Linked DNA regions of Homo sapiens. The protein of the gene in region 2 interacts with the protein of the main gene of each other region in a biochemical or structural test. Each region holds a gene or a part of one and is shown on either strand. Other genes may lie near its edges. The genes, in order: PRKG1, TNNT1 and TPM1.

What was found.
Region 1: the proteins of TNNT1 (region 2) and PRKG1 form a complex in vitro, tested with the Homo sapiens proteins (one study listed by BioGRID).
Region 3: the proteins of TNNT1 (region 2) and TPM1 form a complex in vitro, tested with the Homo sapiens proteins (one study listed by BioGRID).

Annotation. Positions count from the first base shown.
Region 1 is NC_000010.11:52,267,430-52,274,535, reverse strand, and holds part of PRKG1 (cGMP-dependent protein kinase 1), read right to left. Parts: intron 3,187-7,106; coding exon 3,047-3,186; intron 2,145-3,046; coding exon 2,055-2,144; intron 1-2,054. UniProt on the Homo sapiens protein: Serine/threonine protein kinase that acts as a key mediator of the nitric oxide (NO)/cGMP signaling pathway. GMP binding activates PRKG1, which phosphorylates serines and threonines on many cellular proteins.
Region 2 is NC_000019.10:55,146,101-55,153,938, reverse strand, and holds the start of TNNT1 (troponin T, slow skeletal muscle), read left to right. Parts: upstream 1-4,732; 5' UTR 4,733-4,778; intron 4,779-5,845; exon of another isoform or gene 5,846-5,940; intron 5,941-6,770; 5' UTR 6,771-6,781; coding exon 6,782-6,813; intron 6,814-6,917; coding exon 6,918-6,931; intron 6,932-7,231; coding exon 7,232-7,258; coding exon of another isoform or gene 7,259-7,279; intron 7,280-7,472; coding exon 7,473-7,505; intron 7,506-7,838. Other genes in the region: TNNI3 (troponin I, cardiac muscle), read left to right, coding at 2,022-2,105. UniProt on the Homo sapiens protein: Troponin T is the tropomyosin-binding subunit of troponin, the thin filament regulatory complex which confers calcium-sensitivity to striated muscle actomyosin ATPase activity.
Region 3 is NC_000015.10:63,059,747-63,066,784, forward strand, and holds the end of TPM1 (tropomyosin alpha-1 chain), read left to right. Parts: intron 1-1,122; coding exon 1,123-1,193; intron 1,194-1,451; coding exon of another isoform or gene 1,452-1,527; intron 1,528-1,966; coding exon 1,967-2,042; intron 2,043-2,468; coding exon 2,469-2,531; intron 2,532-2,829; coding exon 2,830-2,899; coding exon of another isoform or gene 2,900-3,063; exon of another isoform or gene 3,064-4,317; coding exon 4,318-4,396; coding exon of another isoform or gene 4,397-4,400; exon of another isoform or gene 4,401-6,149; coding exon 6,150-6,153; coding exon of another isoform or gene 6,154-6,241; 3' UTR 6,242-6,432; downstream 6,433-7,038. UniProt on the Homo sapiens protein: Binds to actin filaments in muscle and non-muscle cells. Plays a central role, in association with the troponin complex, in the calcium dependent regulation of vertebrate striated muscle contraction.

The DNA.
Region 1 (7,106 bases), on a different chromosome or scaffold from region 2:
TATATATATATATATATGATGGCATGTATATATATATATGTATATATATGATGGAATACTACACAGCCATAAAAAGGAATGAATTAACAGCATTTGCAGGGAACTGGATGAAATTGGAGACTATTATTCTAAATGAAGTAATTCAAGAATGGAAAACCAAACATCACATGTTCTCACTGATATGTGGGAGCTAAGCTATGAGGATACAAAGGCATACGAATGATGCAATGGGCTTTGGGGATTTGGGGGGAAGAGTCGGAGGGGGGTGAGGGATAGAAGACTACAAATATGGTGCAGTACATACTGCTTGCGTGATGGGTACACCAAAATCTCACAAATCACCACTAAAGAACTTACTCGTAACCAAATATGACCTGTACCCCAATAACTTATGAAAAAATAAAAAAATAATAAGCTATAAGAGGGATAGCTGGGCTCTCCCTTTGTGGCTTATTATTGCTTTCATGTTTAATTCCACCTGTAAATCTTCTTCTATTCTAATTAGAAAAAAAAGTAGAAGACTTCAAATAAATCAGTGAATTGAAATATCAAGTCAAATATAATACAGTAGAAACACATTAGATATGCCAAATGTTAACTCACAGATTAAAATATTAACTTTGTGCCACAAACTATACATTCTGAGGAGAGAGACCCCATCTGTTTTGTTTATTACTGGATCCCCAGCCTCTATCACAATGCCTGGTATATAATCTCTATGTACATATTAACTAGCAATAATACATAATATATACACTATGATATAATAGCTTAGTATAGATGTTAACCTTATCGCCTAATGCCAACATGATTACATTCCCTTTTATGCTTTTTTAACCTTAAATTTAAGAATTGAAATAAAATACCGATGCAATAGGATACAATGTGGTAACAAGAAATCCATTTGGCATATATAAGAAAGGCCATGGGAATAACACGAAAGGGCCTGTTGTACAAAGATATGAAGGTACCATAAGAACACCATTAGGAATGAGAATTTAAATCAACAGTTCATAAGGAACCACTTGTTTTATTCTGGGGTATCTGCAAAGTAACAAATATAAAAACATTACATGGTTATATACATCAGGGCTACCTATAGCTAAGTTTCAGAAGGATGCTACCCTGTGAAGGAGAGTCTGGGAGGCAGGACTCAAACAAATAAGAAAAATACAGATGTCTAAATGTGAGTGTTCAAAAGAACAAAGATGACTTTTGTATGATCAATAAATCATTCATGGAAAATAATCAAAAGATTATTCATAGGAAAATAAAAGTGTGTTTTTAAAAAAACACAGGGTAGATAATGATCTCCTGAGACATTTTATAGGATAAATTATATTAGAAGATAATTAGATAATTTGCTAGTTATCTAAATATGAGATGGAAAATTAAGACAATGAATTTGCATGATTAGAACAAACAAGCACCATGTAGACAAACTTTCCTTGCCCTGGAAGGGTAAGAAGGTAAATCTAAATCAGATAATTTACATGAAATATTGCTTATAAGTGGATTCTTTTCTTTTTCCTAAGACTAGCCAAGGGATAAAGAGATGGCTGGAAACTTTTGTTAATTTTGAAACCAAAGAGCCATGTAAAGGTAGAGGGAAAAATTACTTTGGAAAAAATTCACAATGTCACAAAAGGCAAACTGCCTATCTGGAAAAAGAGTAGAGCAATTAAACTGATAGTTAATTCAAATTATAATTATAAAATAACTATAATTCTCTTTCTGCTAAAGCAATGAATTGAATTCCAGCTACAGAGCTAATTCTAACATTCATGCAAAACTAAGGCCATGTATATATTTTGCTATGTACCATTTTTATGATCGACTAAGCCTGTATTGTTAGTTACAAAGTGAGTTTTGTTATATGTACAGTAAATCATATGTGTATAGTGGGTTATGCCCTGTGCTTACTTTAAATATTGAAATATAAGCATGTGTAAATTATAAATATGATTATTATACTTTATCATATTAACTCTTCTTATAGACCAACATGGGCAACTGTTTTTAGAGATATCATAGAAATTTCTTAAATCTCCTACCTATCCCTGAGAATGGTCCAGAGCTCTCCACCTAGACAAGCTTCCATCAACATATACAAATATTTGCTGTCCTTAAATGTTCTGTACAGTCTGTAAATTGCAAACAAGAAAACAAAGATTATAAACATTACTGTCTTTTACAAGTGTGCAATTTTGGGGGGCCCAGATTATAGTTTTGATTTGCCAAGCTCAAAATTTTGTCAGAATGAGAGAGATCTAAGCCCACACATGGGGAAAAGAAGCCAATGGCTCATGAATAGGATTTTAATAGAAGAAACTAAGGCGCTAATCTCTCCCTTGAAATGGATTAATCATAATGATTATGGACAAAGAGGGTTTCTTGGGATTCTTTCCATTCCAATTTGGGTAATGTTTTGAGCATAGACCCTTGGGGCAACATTTAGTGGTCATCAACATGCAGTGAAAATGGGAATAAAGTGGATTAAACTTTACAGATTCAGACATGTATAAATTTCATATGCTATTCGCTCAAATTCATGTTACATCTTGTTTTCAGTAAATGCCACTGGAAAATTCACTACAAAAAGCTGCTTCCACATATAAAAATCTCCCCATTATCCATTTATTAGTACTGAGGTGGAATGGTCAGCTGTCATTTCATTTTTTTAGATCTTCAAAAAATATTCAGATAATTAAAGGTTAAATAGTTTGATTTTGGATATTTTGTCTTTTAAGCATCAAAGGTCTATGTAGAGTTTGGGGATTTAAAAAAAGATAAAAATGGAATGTTAGAAACTCTGGTACCTCCTTTGGGAAAACACATTGTTTTCAGACACTAATTCTCTTTAAAAGAAAGAATAGAGTCAGAACTTTATTTTTAGAAATCAAACAAAACTTTCTTAAGATTAGATTAAAAAGAAGTTTCTTTGTGCATACGAAATGTGTTAACAGTGAGCACAAGTGGCAGAGGGTTTTGTGGTGGATTTGTCACTTGGAGTTGGGTACGTCTGTCCCTGGCATGGAGCCTTTACCTCACTATGAAATCGGAATGAGCCCCCTGCATGATCTGCTTCTCTGAGCGGATGTGCTCCTGCTGTCTTGTGTCCACAATGTGACGTTTCTTGAGAATCTTCATTGCAAACGTTTTGGATTCTTCACTTTTCAACTGGACCTTAAAGAAAGAGAGAAGAGAGTAAGAAAAAGCCCATAGACTTGTAAGAGTGCATTATTATCCCCAAATTAACAGGTACATGGCGCACTTAAATGAACCTCAGCCACCTCCCAAGTCAAAACACAGTAAATCCTTGGTAGAGCTGCGTTTAACATCCAGGGCTCACAGCTATCATCCAATCTCATGCTCTGAATTGGCTGAATTTTAACTAACTTGATTCCAAATTAATTGTGTTCACGTGTGGATTAGAAGAGGGAAAATGTACTTAGTTCTAGTTTTATTATTTCATGTCATAGAGTGTGTTTGAATACATTTTATAGTTCTTCTGTCAAAAGAGTAGAAAAAAAACTTCTTTTCCAATTTTATTTCAGTAAAGATGGCCAAAAATAGGGTTATATGGGCCTTTATATTCTTCCTCCTTAGTTCTAATCCACAAACATTTCTAATTTTTTTTATCTTTTTTTTAAAATTTTATTATTATTATACTTTAAGTTCTAGGGTACGTGTGTACAACGCGCAGGTTTGTTACATATGTATACATGTGCCATGTTGGTGTGCTGCACCCATTAACTTGTCATTTAGTATTAGGTATATCTCCTAATGCTTTCCCTTCCCCCTCCCCCCACCCCACAACAGTCCCCAGTGTGTGATGTTCCCCTTCCTGTGTCCATGTGTTCTCATTGTTCAATTCCCACCTATGAGTGAGAACATGCGGTGTTTGGTTTTTGGTCCTTGCGATAGTTTGCTGAGAATGATGGTTTCCAGCTTCATCCATGTCCCTGCAAAGGACATGAACTCATCATTTTTTATGGCTGCATAGTATTCCATGGTGTATATGTGCCACATTTTCTTAATCCAGTCTATCATTGTTGGACACTTGGGTTGGTTCCAAGTCTTTGCTATTGTGAATAGTGCCGCAATAAACATACGTGTGCATGTGTCTTTATAGCAGCATGATTTATAATCCTTTAGGTATATACCCAGTAATGGGATGGCTGGGTCAAATGGTATTTCTAGTTCTAGATCTGTGAGGAATCGCCACACTGTCTTCCACAATGGTTGAACTAGTTTACAGTCCCACCAACAGTGTAAAAGTGTTCCTATTTCTCCACATCCTCTCCAGCACCTGTTGTTAACATTTCTAATTTTTAGCTTGAGTGGTGGACCCTAGTCTCTGCTGAGACTGCAGACTGTTATTTCTTCAGTACTGACTGTATTCATTTCTTCTTTTTAACCTTGCAGAATTTTCCCTCCCTACAGTTTAAAGAGAAAAAAAATTGTAACAAGATTTTTTCAGGAGATTTTGAAAACCGTTTGTTTTTCTTCTCAAACAAGCATGATGGCTTTAGTTCCTTTGACCTCAAACTTTACTCTCTAATAACTGGGAAGACTTGGAGGCTTAATATCTTTCAATGTGCCATGCCTCTCTTGCAGCCCTCATGGCTCCCAGTGGCTCCAGAGGAGGCATGGATCTTCCACATGCCTTACTCAGACAGGGTGCTGTTTATGGTTTTACAAGAAATTTCAAGAAGGTGACTTGTAACAAAAACAAGAGAGGTAATAGAGCTAATTACTTAAAAGCAATGTAAGGACATTATCATCTAGTGCTCTCAAGCAGCAGAATCCTCAAGATGATACCAAACAGCCCATATTATTTGGGAGTAATGTAACCTTGGGGAAATAACATGGCATGCTGTTTCTGCTTTTCAGCTGAAGTATGGCTGTCCCCTCTTTAGTCGTTAATTATTTACTGCTTCATCAGCAGGGATAGCGAAGGTCTTAAGTGTCTTGTTCCTGCACACATGTACAGATTGAGTTCAATCTTCGAAGATATTCATGTGGCAAGTTCCTTAGGAGGGAGCATGAAGATACTGCAAATAAATGGGCCTCGGTTAGCTGCCAGCAATTGTGAATCAGTATGACAGGTAGAGGGAAAAATGGGTATTTGAAAATGCTTTTAACAGCCAAAGACCCTGTACTCTGGCTGTGAAACTCAAAGATGACAGATTAGTGTGCTACAAATAAATTCAGTAGTAACTCAAAATAAAACACCAAATGTGAAAACTCACTTCTAAAAGAAATCTGGAAAGCTAGGGAAGATGGCATGAAAAATGAGCTATGTTAGAGTACTACAATTCAGAGAAGAAGAAGTAAAGTCATATTCCCTCTTCAGAGTCATTCCCAGTTAAACTAGTGAGGACTGTTGTGCAGTTGTTCAAAAATGCCTACTATAAAAATGATTCTCTTTAGTGATGATAACACAGATACACAGATTTTTTTTTTTTTATACTTGTACACAGGGTAGGAGGAAAGAATTCAGCCTTTATAGTCACAGGTCTGGACTTGAATTCTGACTCCACTTAGTCCCTCTCAGTCTAAGCAACTAGTCTCTCTCGGGCTAGTTGCTTAACTGCTCTGAGCCCTAGTTCTAGCTGAGGATAATACCAGATACCACAGTTATTATGATCCTAAATGAAAACGCACCACCAAATGGGCATTCATTGATGGACTCTGCTTGTACCCAGCAATCTCTACTGAATAGGGCAAATCAAATGTTGCTTTTTCAGAGGAACAAACTGATTTCCAAAAATGATTCCTATCTTTCCCAAGGTCACAGAGCTATCAAGTGGCAGAAATGGATTCATGTTCAGGTTTTTTTTTGGCCCAAGCTATTTCCAGTATATGCTGCTTCCCTTCAGCTGAATACAAAACCAATTAAATGCATAGTGATTGATACTTTGCAAATCAGAGTTTAACGGAATCGACTAACTCATGGACTGTGAGATAAACTGAACAATATTTCTATTACCTTTAAGCTTAACTTATGCTAGGCATGTGATTTGGGAGAACAGCCAAAGCCTCACTGACATTTTCCTAGGCACTTCCCAGGGACCTCCATGTGTTAGGGGTTTGAGATACCCGATTGCTTGAATACTGCAAGGAGAAGCCAAGTGGGGTAGAAAGAGGATAATGAGAACTGGTGGGTGGCAGATGTCATAAGAGATAGGTAAAAGCTACAGAAAGCAACAGAAATTCTTGGGAGTCAGGCTTACTAGTTGCCAATTTAAAAAGCATTAATTACAAAAAGTTTATAGAACTATACTGCTAACCTACTGAGGCTTTCTGCTTTGCCTTTACTTTGCATGGAACCAGTCCTTGGGTCTAGAATCATCTTCCTTCTTTGGACTCTATACAAGATCTCATGAGCTCCTTAGAGCAGGGCCCTTAGAATCTCCACTTCCAATTTAAACCAGAATGCTACAAGACTCACAGAACTCAGGATCTTAACCAGAAAGTCAGGGTACCTGAGGACCACTGGTGTGAGCTAACTCAACAGAGACAGTGGAGAATGTTGAAGTTAATTATTTCCATAAAGCCCAAGTAACATATTCATCAGAAATCTTCTGATAAACCAACAACTTCCCAAAGATCATTCAAGAATGTTCAATTCAACATTGTTTCTAATGGAAAAATTTAGAAACAATCTAAATTTCTAGCAAGAGGAGGAGCTTGAAAAATAAATTATGGTATATCCATGCAATGCAACTGTAAAAATGATGACTTAGAATTATATTTAACATTACGGAAAAATAACCAAGACATATATATGAATAAAAGATACTGATTACAAGTCAGCATGCATTTTATGATCTCACAGTGTGTTCGTATGTTAGTGTGTATATATACATTCATATGTATATATATACACACACATCTATATGTGAAATAAATGTATGAAGAGACAATCAGAAATGTGTTCATCAATACGTTAACAATGATTTTTCCTTAGGGAGATTTTTAGTTGATTTTTACTTCTTTTTACTTTTTGAATTGCTTAACTTTTGAACAATCCTCATACCTTGCTTTTACAATGAGTAAAAGTAAAACTCTCATCATGAAAAAACTTGCAAGTCTCTTTT
Region 2 (7,838 bases):
GTTGGAGGTAGAAGCAGCTAGTAAGGGGTCCTCAGAAATGCAAGAGGAAGACAGGAAGTAGAAGGGGAAGACAGGAAGTGCATTAGGGCTACAGGAAGTCCATGTAAGAGCAAAGAGGTACATGAAGGTCCAGGTGCAGTGGCTTATGCCTGTAATCTTTGAGGTTTAAAAAAAATTTTTTTTTAATTTCCTTTTTTTTTTTTTTTTGCGATGGAGTCTCTGCTGCCCAGGCTGGAGTGCAATGACACCATCTCGGTTGCTGGAGTGCAGTGACACCATCTCGGCTCACTGCAACCTCTGCCTCCCAGGATCAAGTGATTCTCATGCCTCAGCCTCCCGAGTAGCTGGGACTACAGGTGCACACCACCATGTTGTTGTTTTAATTTCTACAAATTTCTTTTTTAAATTAGCCAGTCACGGTGGTGGCATGCAGCTTCTCAGGAGGCTGAGGCAGGAAAATCGCTTGAGCCCATGAGATCGAGGGTGCAGTGAGCTATGACTGCACCACTGCACTCCAGCCTGGGCAATACAGTGAGACCCTATCTTAAAGAAGAAGACAGGAAAGATAGGAGTGGATGCCTGAAACCATGGATTGTACTGAACCCTATATGTAATTTTTTTTCCTATACACACATACATACCTATGATAAAGTTTCATTTCTAAATTAGACACAGTAAGAGATTAACAATAAATAACAACAAAAGAAGGTTGGGCGTGGTGGCTCATGCCTGTAATCTCAACACTTTGGGATGCTAAGGCAGGCAGATTGCTTGAGCTCTGGAGTTCGAGACCAGCCTGGGCAACATGGCGAGACCATGTCTCTATAAAAAATACCAAAGTTACCGGGTGTGGTGGCTCGTGCCTGTAATCCCAGCGCTTTGGGAGGCCAAGGCGGGCGGATCATGAGGTCAGGAGTTTGAGACCAGCCTGGCCAACACAGTGAAACCCCACCTGTAGTAAAAATACAAACATTTGCTGGGCGTGGTCGTGGGTGCCTGTAATCCCAGCTACTTGTGAAGCTGAGGCAGGAGAATTGCTTGAACCCGGGAGGCAGAGGTTGCAGTGAGCCGAGATCTCACCACTGCACTCCAGCCCAGGCAACACTGGGAGACTCCATCTCAAAACAAAACAAAACAGAACAAAAGTTAGCTGGGCATGGTGGCACACACCTGTGGTCCCAGCTCCTCAGGAGTCTGAGGTGAGAGGATGGCTTGAGCCCAGGAAGTTGAGGCTGCAGTGAGCCGAGATTGCACGACTGCACTCCAGCTTGGATGAGGCAGCCAGACCCTGTCTCAAATAATAATAATAATAAAATAGAACAATTATAACAGATTGTAATAAAACTCATGAATGTGGTCTCTTTCTCAAAATATCTTATAGCACTGTAATCACCCTTCTTTTCCTTGTGATGTAAAATGACAGTGCCTATGTGCTGAGATGAGGTGAGGTGGATGACATAGGCATTATGACCTGGCGTTAGGCTACTATTGACCTGAGAATCCATCAAACTTATGAATTGTTTATTTCTGGAATTTTCCATTTAATATTTTTGGGCCATGGTTTACCTCAGGTAACTGAAACCACACAAAGTAAAATTGCAGAAAAGGAGGGACTACTATAATAAGAAGAGAAGGAAGGAGACAGGAAGGGCATAAGGCAGACAGGAAGTGGAGGGGAAAGATAGGAAGTGCAGGAAGGAGACAGGAAGTGGAGGGGAAAGACAGGAAGTGCATGAGGGAGACAGGAAGTGGATGGGGAAAGACAGAAAGTACATGAGGGAGACAGGAAGTGCTGGGGAAAGACAGGAAGTGCATGAGGGGGACAGGAAGTGCATGAGGGAGACAGGAAGTGCATGGGGAAAATTGGCAGGGATTATCTTGAAAAGACAGGAAGTGCTCCAGAACTAGATACTTAGGCATCCAGGGTAGAGTGGCCCCACAGGCTGGAGGGAAGACAGGGATTCTTGAGAGACTGGAGACCAAGAAGAGACCCTAACCTCTGACTCATCGCCATCCTCCAGGAAAACCGGGAGGTGGGAGACTGGCGCAAGAACATCGATGCACTGAGTGGAATGGAGGGCCGCAAGAAAAAGTTTGAGAGCTGAGCCTTCCTGCCTACTGCCCCTGCCCTGAGGAGGGCCCTGAGGAATAAAGCTTCTCTCTGAGCTGAAAGTGACTCCATGTCTATTACCCAGGGCTTAGGCAGGAGACAGATGGGAAGACTGCAGGTGGGGCTCCCCCAAAGCCACACAGCAGGTTGGGGACCAGATGGGTCTCCCATGTGAAGCACTCTTGGCTGTGTTATTGAAAAGAATCCCGGGGTTCATGAATTTGGAGAGCGGAGCTTTGTTTCTTAAGAAGCGGATCACAACCTGAAGACCAGAAGCATGGCTTCTTGCCAAAAAACAAAAGCAGGCACTTTAAGGGAGGGAAGGGCAAGGCAGGAATTTATGCTGAGTGGGTTAGCTAAGTGCACGTATTCAACTGGTTATAGAAGGAGCTATGAATATTCATGGACAGGTGGACACATGGACACACGCATGTGTGACAAGCAAACACTCATTTTTTTTTTTTTTTGAGACGGAGTCTTGCTCTGTCACCCAGGCTGGAGTGCAGTGGCACGATCTCAGCTCACTGCAACCTCTGCGTCCTGGGTTCAAGCCATTCTCCTGCCTCAGCCTCTCCAGTAGCTGGGATTACAGGCATGCACCACCACGCCCAGCTAATTTTTGTGTTTTTCGTAGAGACGGGGTTTCACCATGTTGGCCAGGCTGGTCTCGATTTCCTGACCTCGTGATCCGCCCTCCTTGGCCTCCCAAAGTGCTGGGATTACAGGCGTGAGCCACCGCGACTGGCCGCAAACACATTTTACATGCATCCCACCTTCACTTGGTGGTGGAGGCTTAACATTTAAGTGCATTCCATTGAATGCATTCGTATCGAAACACGAAGCAGGGATATGAAGACACTCAGTGCACAGCCTCTGTCAACAGCCAGAACCAGTCCGTGGTCTGCGGCATCTTATCAGGAGAAAGTTACTGAAATCAGTCTCTTGTTCAACTAATGCTGTAGTTATGCCTTGTGGAACAGGGGGTTCAGCTAGTCAGCATCTGGCAATGGATGGCTGCAATGGTTGTAATATTGCTTATCTTGAGGCCGGTGCTTGTTTAGCTGCTAGAAAAAGGAAAAGCCTTGTGGCAGTTGGAACATAGTCGATTATATAAGTGTAGGGATGCGTGGCTTAACCCTTGCCTGGCATGGCCTTAGGTCTTGTTTATAATTTGGTATCTTATTGCCACAAACAGTTCATTCCATCAGTCTTCTGATCTCTATTGTCACAGCTCCTCTGGCCCATGTGGAGTGCACAGAGATGCCAAGACTAAAGGTCAAAGAGAGAGAGACACAGAGAAACAGACAGGCAGAGAGACATGACCGACAACAGAGAGACTGAGTTGGGAGTAGAGAGAGTAGGAGCCAGGCAAAGACCCAAAGAGAGAGGGAGAAAATACCACAAGATGCATAGAAGGAAGTGCAAAGAAAGGAGAAAAGAGAGACAGAGATATACTCACAGCAAGGTGCAGAGACATGGAGACCCTATAAGAGATGGAAATGGAGAGCCACAGAGGGGGAACTGCGGGCACTAAGAGAGACATGGAGAGAACTAGAAAGATAGAGACGTGAACACAGACACAGAGACCCAGAGCCAAAAAGAGACAGAAATGGGGTCATAGGTGGACAGAAATGCACAGAGAGACTGTGAGCCCCCACAGACACAAACGCTGAGAGGGGCAGACATGCAGAGACACCCACAGAAATGCAGAGACAAAACCACCCGGAGACACATGCCGAGAAACACACTGAGGGGCTCAGAAAGCGACAGATGCAGAGAGAGCCCAAGACAGACCCAGCAAGGGGCCCCGAGAAATGCACAGAAACACAAAGACCGAGACCACCAGAGACAGAGGTACGGAGAGGCGGGGAGGGTGAGGAAGCCTGCTCTCCAGGGCTGGCTTGAACCTAGAACTCAAGGTCATGGCTTGGCTGGGAAGCGGGAGGGGGATACCAAAAAAGATCAGCGTTAGATGGAGGTGGGGAGGGAGGGTAGGTTTCACCCTAATTGACACCCCACCCTCCCCCTCCCCCTCCCCACACCTGCTTCCCGGCTTTAGTGCCTGTTGTCACCAGGATGGAATCCTGGCGGCAGACAAAGGGGTGGGGGTGGGAGGAGGAGACAAAAAGATGGACAGAGACAGAGGAGGAGACTAAGAAGTAGAGACAGACACACAGAGACACACAGATGGAGAGCCACAGAGACAACAGAAATGGGGGTCCAGAAAGAGACCTAGATAGAAAGAGGGAACAGAGAGAAGAAAACAGGAAACATTCCTTATAGCCCATGTGTCATTAGTAGGTCCTCCAAGGACCTACTGTGTGCCGGGCATGGGGACGTCAAAGCACAGGGAGCTATAAGGGAGGTAGTTGGAGCACCACGGGAGCCTGGGGTGTGGGGTGGGAGCAGGGGCGGGGCTCCTGGGCCATGCAGATGGGGTTGGCATGGGGTTGGGGAGGGGCCCACGGAGGCTTCTGGACTCTGAGTGTGGAGCCAGGGGCAGCAGGGCTGTCTCTGAACTCCCAGGCTTGTGTTTGAGCAAAGGAATTCTCTCCCCCTCCCTCTCCCCTCGGGGCGGGCCCGAGCCTCCAGCTATAAACTCCCCGGAGCTTCAGTGCCCTCAGCAAGGCTCAGCCTCAAGATTCACAGCATCTCAGACACAGCCTAGGTAAGGGGCTCTGCGGAGCCCTGTGGTCTTCAAAAACCATGTCCTTGGGGGAGGGGGCAGGAGGCAGGTGGGGAAGATGTCGGGTGTGGAGAAATGGTGCAGAGGTAGGTGGGGCATACAACTGGAGGTCTGGGAACTTGAGAGGCTCAGACTTTAGGGGGACTCAGGATAGAGGGGAAAATACTAGGATTTGTGGGTTACACAAATCCTAACCCGGGGCTGCCAGGACTTGGATGTCCCAGAATAAAACCTCCTAGGATCTTGGGGTTCTGGGAATCTGGGGGAAATCTCAGCAGTCAGGGATATCTGGACTTGGAGGTCAAACAATCTGGGTGTCAGGATTTGGGGCCTCAGACTCTGAGGGTATCAGGAATTGGGGGGGTCTCAGAAGAAATTGGGGTTTTGGTAGTGGAGGGCTCGGAATCTGAGACATTATGATAGAAAGCATGAAAACTTAGAGTGCCATTATCTGGGGTATCATGAACTGGGCCTCCGAGTTTGGGTATCAAGATTTTGGGGGTCTCATATTCTTGAGGTTTCAGATTTTAGGAGGTCTCAAGACCTGGGGGTGGTCTTAGGATGTCCCGGCCCATATCTGGACTATCAAGAACTGGGATTTCAGAATCCAGAGCTGTGAGGACTTGCTGGCCTCAGAAACACGGGCATCATAAATCGGGGTCTCAGAATCTGTGGGTATTGGGATTTGGGGCTAGGCACCCTGTGGCCTAGGGTGTCTCAAAGACTTTGAGGTCTAAGAATGTAGGGGTCAGGGTGAGGTCTACGGACAGAAGGTGCCCTTTATGCCCCTGCCCCCTACGTGATGTATGGGAAGGTGAAAGGGGAGACAGGTGGGGAGGAAACCAGCCAGTGGGGTGGGGCGAGTGGGAGAGGGGATGCGGGTGACTAATTCTCCCAGAAGCCCCCCTTCCTCAAATCCCTTCTTAGGAAATGTCCTCGGTTTCACCATCTATGACATCCCCCCAAAATAGCTCCTGGGGGTGGGGCAGCTATTGTCTTCAGGCCACTGTCCCTTCTCAAATGCCTCTTCCTAATCCCAACTGGATCAGGTTCCCATGGACTTGTCATAAGACAAAAGAGGACAGCTGTGCTGAGGGGGCAGGGTCTGCAGCCTCCTGGCTGTGCCAGGACCACACCTACCAAGGTCTGTCCTCATGCATGCTTTAGGACAGCCGGCCCCCTCCCTCAGACCCAAGAGTCCAGACCTGAGCCCTCCTCCCTCAGACGCAGGAGTACAGGCCCCCAGCCCGCTCCTCCCTCAGACTCAGGAGTCTAGACTCCCAGCCTCTCCTCCCTTAGATCCAGGAGTCCAGGCCCCAGCTCCTCCTCCCTCAGACCCAGGAGGCCAGGCCCCCAGACCCTCCTCCCTCAGACCCAGGCGTCCAGGCCCGCGGCCCCTCCTCCCTCAGACCCAGGCGTCCAGGCCCCTGGCCCCTCCTCCCTCAGATCCAGGAGTCCAGACCCCAGCCCCTCCTCCCTCAGACCCAGGTGTCCAGGACAACCCATCTCAGTCTCAGGAGTCCACACCCACCCTCCCACACACCCCCCAGCCCCTCCTCCCTCAGACCCAGGAATCCGGCCCCCAGCCCCTCCTCCCTCAGATCCAGGAGTTCAGGACCCCAGTCCCTCCTCCCTCAGACCCAGAAGTCCAGGCCCCAGCCCCTCCTTCCTCAGACCCAGGAGTCCAGGCCCCAGCTCCTCCTCCCTCAGACCCAGGAGTCCAGACCCCAGCCCCTCCTCCCTCAGACCCAGGAGTCCAGGCCCCCAGCCCCTCCTTCCTCAGACCCAGGAGTCCAGGCCCCAGCTCCTCCTCTCTCACACCCAGGAGTCCAGACCCCAGCTCCTCCTCTCTCACACCCAGGAGTCCAGACCCAGGAGTCCAGGCCCCCAGCCCCTCCTCCCTCACACCCAGGAGTCTAGGTCGCCCCCTCCTTGGGGCCCCACCCCACTGGGCCTCTTCTCTCTGGTCCTTAGGCCGCACCAGGATGTCGGACACCGAGGAGCAGGAATATGAGGAGTGAGTGCTGCACTGGGAGGGGTTGGGGCGTGCAGTGGTGGAGAGGCTCTCCCACCCCAGGTCTAACTCTCCCCTCCCTCCTCTCTCCCCACACCCGTCCGCAGGGAGCAGCCGGAAGGTGAGTAGGGAGTGGGCCGGCCCTATGGGATGGGGACACGCCCAGGAGCTCTTGGGAGGGGAGGCGAGGAGTGTGGCACTTTGGCGGGGAAGGGGCGGCTCAGCCCTCGGGCCCTCGCCCGCCCTCTCCGGGTCTGGAGCGTCTCCTCGCGCCATCCCTGCACCGCCAGGGGGAACGTGCCCATCGCAGCCGAGGCCAGAGGGACCCCCGTCCAGCAGAGACTGGAACCCTGGTCTCTGGCCACCGCCCCCATCCCTCCCCCAGCTCCTAACGCCTTCTCTTCTGTGCCCCCATCTCCAGAGGAGGCTGCGGAGGAGGAGGAGGAAGGTGAGGTCCCGGACTCCGCAGGTCTGGAGCTGGGGGGTGGGGGGGCGGGGACGCTGGGCCCGGGAGGAGGGGGCGGGATGGGGCTCCCGACGGCCTCGGCTCCCGGTCCTCTAACAGCCTCTCACGTCTCTTCCCTCTCTCCCCTCCCGCGCCCGGGCGTGGCCGCTCCCCCCTCGCTCCCCAAACCCTCGCTGCTCCTCCCTCCCCTCCCCAGCCCCCGAAGAGCCGGAGCCGGTGGCAGAGCCAGGTAACCGCGGCTGCTTCGCTTCCCGAGACCGATGTCGGGGGCCCGGGGGGACCCCCGATATCCTCGGGCCCCAACCTCCAAGACCACCCTTCCCTCCCTCCGCCCCCATAACCCGCCCCCAGGCCCGGTCCTTTAAGCCCCTGAGAGCTCCTGCGCCCTCTCGGGGCCGGGAAGGGAAATGGCCCCGCAGTGGCTTTAACCCTTTCCCTTCCTTCTTAAAGGGACCGACACCCAAGCCTTCTTCCCCAGTCTGGAGGAATCTTTACAGAAGGGTTGGATGTTTGCGGAGAAGCACCACCCCATCCCCCCTTATCTTCGCCTCCAACCTTGTCT
Region 3 (7,038 bases), on a different chromosome or scaffold from region 2:
GTACAGTCTTGATTCCCGAGTGAGGCCATCTGCTTTGTTGGCAGAAATGGGTGGTTTTGAGAAGCAGAGTTCCTTTGTGTCCAGAAAACGGTTCTAATTTTAATCCTGCTAGGGGATCCCAGGCTTTATCAGGAAGCCAATCAGTAGCACTGCGAAGAAGGACCAAAACTCCTCTCCCCCAGCCACAAAGACCCGGACAAAAGATCTTTGGCCGGAAGGGAGAGTTGGGCCCTGTGTCTTGTGAAAGGAGGCTCTCATGCTGTCATGGTGCAAGTCATTTCTTCCCAGAGTGACCTGGCACATCCAGATTGGGCAGCTTAGAGACCACAGACAGTTTCTCAGTGGATTCACAGAGGCCTCTCTCCTCAAGGGTGGTAGAAAACTATTATCAACGCAGGTTTTCAGCAGAATTTGCTCCTGGTCGTGTCCCCATGAAAACAGCCTCCTGTGATAAGAGGCAACTTGATTATTAAGGTTTCTGTTTTTTCCTTATTGGATCACATCGTGGCTATCCTGAAACAGCATTGCCCCTCCTTTTTATTACCATTATTACCTTCAGATTACACTATGCTCACAAGTTTTGATCTGCTTCAGAGGCTCCCTTCCTCTCTCTGGTTCTTCCACTAAATACAAATTTGATTTTGTCAGTTATCTCACCAACTTGTCTCACGTTAGTGTCTCTTGTATTCTTCCACTGCAGTAAGGAGGTAGATGCACAGATCAGCCATCAAATTGATGGAGTTCTTAGGTTTACTTTGTTTTCCTGGCAGCCCCCACCTTTTTAGTACATGTCTCATCCTACTGCTGTTTTTGAGATTGTGAATGTGTATTTTATCCCTCCTTCCACATTTTGGTCTGGCTGCCGGTTCACCTAGGTCAGACTTCCAATTGAGACTGCCCAATCACAGCTAACCATTCTGAGTCAAAGCAGAAGCCTCTGATCTCCTCTCTGCTGGCACTCCTAATAGAGAGTTGCTTCTCTCTGGTCTACCAGAAAGAGGATCATATTGTTTGTAGACAAAACCCTTAGGGCCTGATGGGATCTGATCTCTACCCCCATGCCCTTCTGTTACACAAAGCTTGCAAGACCCATGGTGTGTGTGTTGTGTCTTCCTGCTGCAGGTGGCCCGTAAGCTGGTCATCATTGAGAGCGACCTGGAACGTGCAGAGGAGCGGGCTGAGCTCTCAGAAGGGTAAGCGGGCCCGGCGCCAGGAGGCCACGAATGGGGTGCTGCAGAGCAGTGACTAAACAGCATGACCTTCTGGCAGCTGCACATTACCTGTTTCAGCTCCGGGCTCCTTTTGTGCTCATTTGATGTGGATGAGCCACGAGTATGGAACATGGAGGACTCGTGTGGGGTGTCTTATGTATGAATGCGTGTATCACTGCATGCCTTACCTGCACACTGATTTTGTGAATGGCCTTGTGCATTTCCTGTGTCCACTAACAGCCAAGTCCGACAGCTGGAAGAACAATTAAGAATAATGGATCAGACCTTGAAAGCATTAATGGCTGCAGAGGATAAGGTACTGATGGCTCGTGTGGTTTTTAGGTTTAACTGCAACCCAGACATCTTTCAGCTTCCAATGCCTCCTGGTTCGTTTGGTATAACGACTGCACCTTCACTTCACCCTCTGCTATTTATATCTTGCCTTAAGTGCTTTCCCTTGGTCCTTTATGCTCCTTTGTTTTCCCTTCATAAATGCTCTTTGGGCAGCCAAAAAAGGAGCCAAATTATCGCACTTCAAAGTTGTTGGATTTGGTCACCCTGCCTTCTGCTGTTGCGAGGTTGGGGGGCAGTGTTCCTGGAAAACCTAAACATTTTAATACCTGATGATTTGGCTACTTTAAGGCAGCCCTTCGTCTCTAGGACTCAGTTTTCATTTTTTCCCATCCCTCTCCTTTTTCTCTCCTCCTTCCTTTGGCTTGTCTCCCACCCTTTCTGCCTCTGATCGAAAACATTAGCAAATGTGCCGAGCTTGAAGAAGAATTGAAAACTGTGACGAACAACTTGAAGTCACTGGAGGCTCAGGCTGAGAAGGTAGGCCAGGAGGATGGTGTGGGGGAAAGGCATCTTTTAAGAGCTGCTCAAAAGAGGCCCTGCCAGAAAGCAACACTTACAGTAGACATTTTAGTAAAATGGCAATATTGTGAGGTGATTTTTGGAGAGTTACTAGATAACAAATTCTTTTTTTTAACTAGAGAATTTATTTTATGTTAGGGATATGAGGCATCAATTTAATTTAAACCAAGTGCCAAGTGGATAAGTTATCTTGTTGTTATCCCATGTAAAACAATAGGCAAGAAAGCAGAGAATGTATTGCAGTGTGCCATTTGATATCAGAGGTTCCATTACCTCCTAAGAGATCCTTAACATCTGTTGGCTGAGCTGGCGAGTTCTTTGCATGAGAAGCCATGAGTAGATTGAGCTGCAGCCTGACATCTGGAATGCTCTTTCTAATTACAGTACTCGCAGAAGGAAGACAGATATGAGGAAGAGATCAAGGTCCTTTCCGACAAGCTGAAGGAGGTAATATGAGAGTTGTGGATGAAGCCAACTGGATTTTAAATGAGTTTGTTTTCATGGAACCGGTCAGGGCCTTTTCATTTTAAAGTTCCAATGATCCAAGTCAGGAATATTCAAAGGTCGCCTTGGAGTTTATGTACTGTGCTAACTGCCATTTCTCACAGAGGTGACTGAAACTGACAAGTAGTTTCTGATCCATTTTATAGGTGATGTGCTTCATTTTCATCCTCTAGTTTTCCCTATGTTTGTAGCTACAGGAAACATAAAACTTCCCAACTTTAACTCAAATAAATCATTACAGGCTGAGACTCGGGCTGAGTTTGCGGAGAGGTCAGTAACTAAATTGGAGAAAAGCATTGATGACTTAGAAGGTAAGATCTTAAGTAGTGTTTTTAGTTTAATCCTTATGGTTGAATACCAACCTGGCAAAACAATTTTCCAATTCAAGGGCATCCACATTGATACGCTCCTTTGCACTTGCACATTCTTCCTGTGTGTCCTCTGGGGTTTTTCTCTGTGGCTCTTGAACTCATGAACCTAAGTCTTCTGCTCACGAGGTGACTAGTTAGCCACCAGCCATAGTGGCAAATGCCATCCAGCTTGACTTCATGCTCATTACAAGTGTGGCAGGTTTATTTTTCACTGTGAGTGAGGTGCTTATTGGTGAGAATGACTCTAGTATATTTTATATCTTTAGTGTTACTTCCTAATTAAATTGGGAATGATGTGGTGATTGTGGTCTTGTTTTTAGAAGAACCCATCTTCTTCCAAGTATGAATTCAAAGTAAGGATTTAGGGGTTATTTTAAGTCATATATTATCTTAACAAAATACTTTATATCCTGAAGGAGGAGGGAAAAATTATACTTAAGCATTTCTTCCCTAAGGCACTTAGGTTTTATTTTAGTAATAACCACTCTATCTCACAGATATCCTAAATGTTGAGCTTTGAAGCTTGTGAAGGATTAGCTGTGAACAAGAAAGAAAAAAGACAAATATCTACATCACAGAAGGGATTAGAGAAGGAACTAGTGTTTGGTGCAGATAATAACCAAAATAGTGGAGAAGAGAGAATGACAAATGGTTGCAAAATGATCTGCCAAAGTGCAGCAAAGTATGAAACCTGCAGCATTACAAAAACTAAGTTGCAGACTTGCCATATAAAGTGTGGCGCCCATTGCTTTTCAAGCCTCCTGGACCAGTAATAGGCAGCTTGAGTGGGAAGACCACAGGAGTAGCTTAAATGGCACTAAGAAATCGCTATCCCAGTGGTCTAGTGTGGTCAGGAAGTCAGTGGTTTGAAGGTGGAACCAGATAAGGACTACAGGCTGTAGTCACAAATTGTTCTTCCAAAACACTGCCCTTGCATTTTTTTCCCATTGTTTATAGCTGCAGATGCCTGACTACTCCAGTGTAATTAAAATATAGCTCTGCAAAAGAAAGATGTTCCATTAGCCCCTGCCTCCCCTCACCAGGAGACAGCCTTCTGTGGTTTCGTTTACAATTTAACATGGTTTACTGATATACCTACCATATTTGTTAGGATTTTCATATTGAGTCTTTTTCATTTTATTTTCTAATGGGTTTTGTTCTCTTTGTTTTTGTTTCAATTTACTTAAAACAAAACGCACGCCTCCTGCATTGGCCACCTGCTGCGGCACCAACCCCTTCATGCATTGCCCTTTTCTTGCTGCTGTGTTGGGATGGTGCGCGCACCACCCTCACTCACCCTCCATTTCTTGATCACTCTCCATGTTCTTGCACCTCTGCCTTCCACTTCCTGGTCATAGACGAGCTGTACGCTCAGAAACTGAAGTACAAAGCCATCAGCGAGGAGCTGGACCACGCTCTCAACGATATGACTTCCATGTAAACGTTCATCCACTCTGCCTGCTTACACCCTGCCCTCATGCTAATGTAATAAACTCACCACCATGCCTTCCTTGCTCCCTAATCTCCATCTTTGCACTCTTGTGTTCACCCTTTTTGTCATAACCTAGAATAGTCATTGTTTTTTCACTTTCTGCTAATATAAAGGCCAATTAGATTAAGTCTGTCTATACAAACCATTTTCTTTTCAGAATCCGTTTATTTTGTAAACGCTGAACTAGAGCAGTGAACTAGAATGAGTGACCTTGAGCACTGTCCTTTTGGGAAATTAAGCTAAACTCAAGTAAAACTAGAAGGCCATGCCGTTTGTTGTACAGGAACTTCTCAAAAAATATCAAAATTTGTTTCCTGAAATTCAACTAAGTACAACATAATCATTTTCGTTAAATATAATTTGAAGGAACCCTTAAAGTGTCAGGTTATTGAGAATCTGAGGATAAGGAAATTGGCATGATCCAATACAGCTTTAACAGTGGTACTACAAAAGATCATCTCTTTTACTTTTAAGAATTCTAGAGTAGGCCGGGCACAGTGGCTCACGCCTGTAATCCCAGCACTTTGGGAGGCCGAGGCGGGCGGATCACGAGGTCAGGAGATTGAGACCATCCTGGCTAACACGGTGAAACCCTGTCTCTACTAAAAATACAAAAAAAATTAGCCGGGCGTGGTGGTGGATGCCTGTAGTCCCAGCTACTCAGGAGGCTGAGGCAGGAGAATGGCATGAACCCGGGAGGTGGAGCTTGCAGTCAGCCGAGATCGCACCACCGCACTCCAGCCTGGACGACAGAGCGAGACTCTGTCTCAAGAAAAAAAAGAATGGTAGAGTAAAAAGAACCCTCTGCTGAGTAACCAAGCCTTTAATTTTGTGTTTTTATGAAAGGAATTAAAATACCCACGATAAATATTTACCACAACCTGTGTCAAATAAATGGGAAATTAAACACAGATTGTACAATGTGAGCTTGGGAGTTAATGGCCCAGATTTTACTGTTAGGCAGTAAGAGTTGGAGTAGGTAGTCTTGTTATCATGAGAAGAACCTTGAACAGATACAACTAATTTACATATTACTAACCAAACTTAAACATTAAACTTTTTCTACTACTTTAAATTCTAACCTGGAATGTTTCAGAGTTCTTCATTCTAATATCACCCTGAATTCCATTGAAGCTGGAAATGTCATTTTCCAAGCCCACCTGTCATTCATTTACCCATGCAGAAAAAATGGTAACTTGAAGAGAGTGGCATGTGCCTGCTGCCTTAGAGGTTATAGAATCCCCACAGTCAACAAAAAAGCCTCTAGAGACATGACTGTTGCCATGGAAACCAGAGAAAATGTGTCTTCTCATCCCTCATTTGTAAATGAGGGGGTGGAGCAGATCATCTGTCTCTAAGGTCTTTTTCAGTGCTAAAATGTGGTGATTCTTTGGGAAAAACTTTTTGCATCAAGTATGATTAAATATTCTGAAAGACGAGTGTAGCTTAAAATTTTTTTTGTTTTTAAATTCTGTTCATGGGTCTTCTTAAAATGGACCCTTGCCGAAAGGCGGCCTGTGACGGCCTCAGGTGGGAAGATGGATGTCCTTCCAAGGGTGTGGCTGGCAGTGGGGTTTGCATGACTGCTTCTTGTCTGTGTTTCAAGTGCTCTCATCTATTGGTTTGGTTTCCTTTCTTTTTTTTTTTTTTCTCATTGTGCCACTTTTTTTTTCCTCCCACCTTTTTATCTTCACGCAGATAAGTTTCTTTGCTTCACTTCTCCCAAGACTCCCTCGTCGAGCTGGATGTCCCACCTCTCTGAGCTCTGCATTTGTCTATTCTCCAGCTGACCCTGGTTCTCTCTCTTAGCATCCTGCCTTAGAGCCAGGCACACACTGTGCTTTCTATTGTACAGAAGCTCTTCGTTTCAGTGTCAAATAAACACTGTGTAAGCTATTTCTGTTTGCTATTCTTTTTACTTCTTATTTATTGACATTTTAGTTTCAACATTGAATAAAACTACAAAGCTGCTTCACACATATGAGGGTTAGTGTTTGGCTGCTGCTTTTTCTTTTTAAATACTGAACACTATACAGAATTATATCAGGAGTTTCTAAAGCAGTAGTTCCTTGTTGAACTTCAAAAAAATACCCAGGCCTGCATTCCCTCTCAGAGTTCTGATTTTCAAAGGTTAGAATGAGGTCTGGACATCTGGGGGGGTTTTGGGGGAATTGTGATGGCTCTGCTTTGCAGTCTGGGTCACACAGGGGACATTGCTTGTTGAGAGTTGAAAGGTCTGGCTTGATCAGTGTCTTCCTTTGCTGGAGGTTTAGCTCGGGATGTAGTGACCCCTCTGTGTTGATTATTTCGGTGGCCTTACTTGGGAGGACCTGGCTAACTAATGAAAGGCTCATGATGAATGGTTCTGTAGCTGTCCCATATTACTAGGAAGTTATACATTGAGAAGGGTGAAAAAGAACTTGGATTCAAACAATGTAAGTTTTGGTTATTGTCGATCATCCTTTTATAGCACAAAGAAAAGTTCAAGCTTTTTTGAAGTATATTCATGACTCAGCCACCTTTATTTTGATCATGAAAATGACATCTTAGGTTTTCTAAATATGATTACTCTGTTTAGTCGTGATTT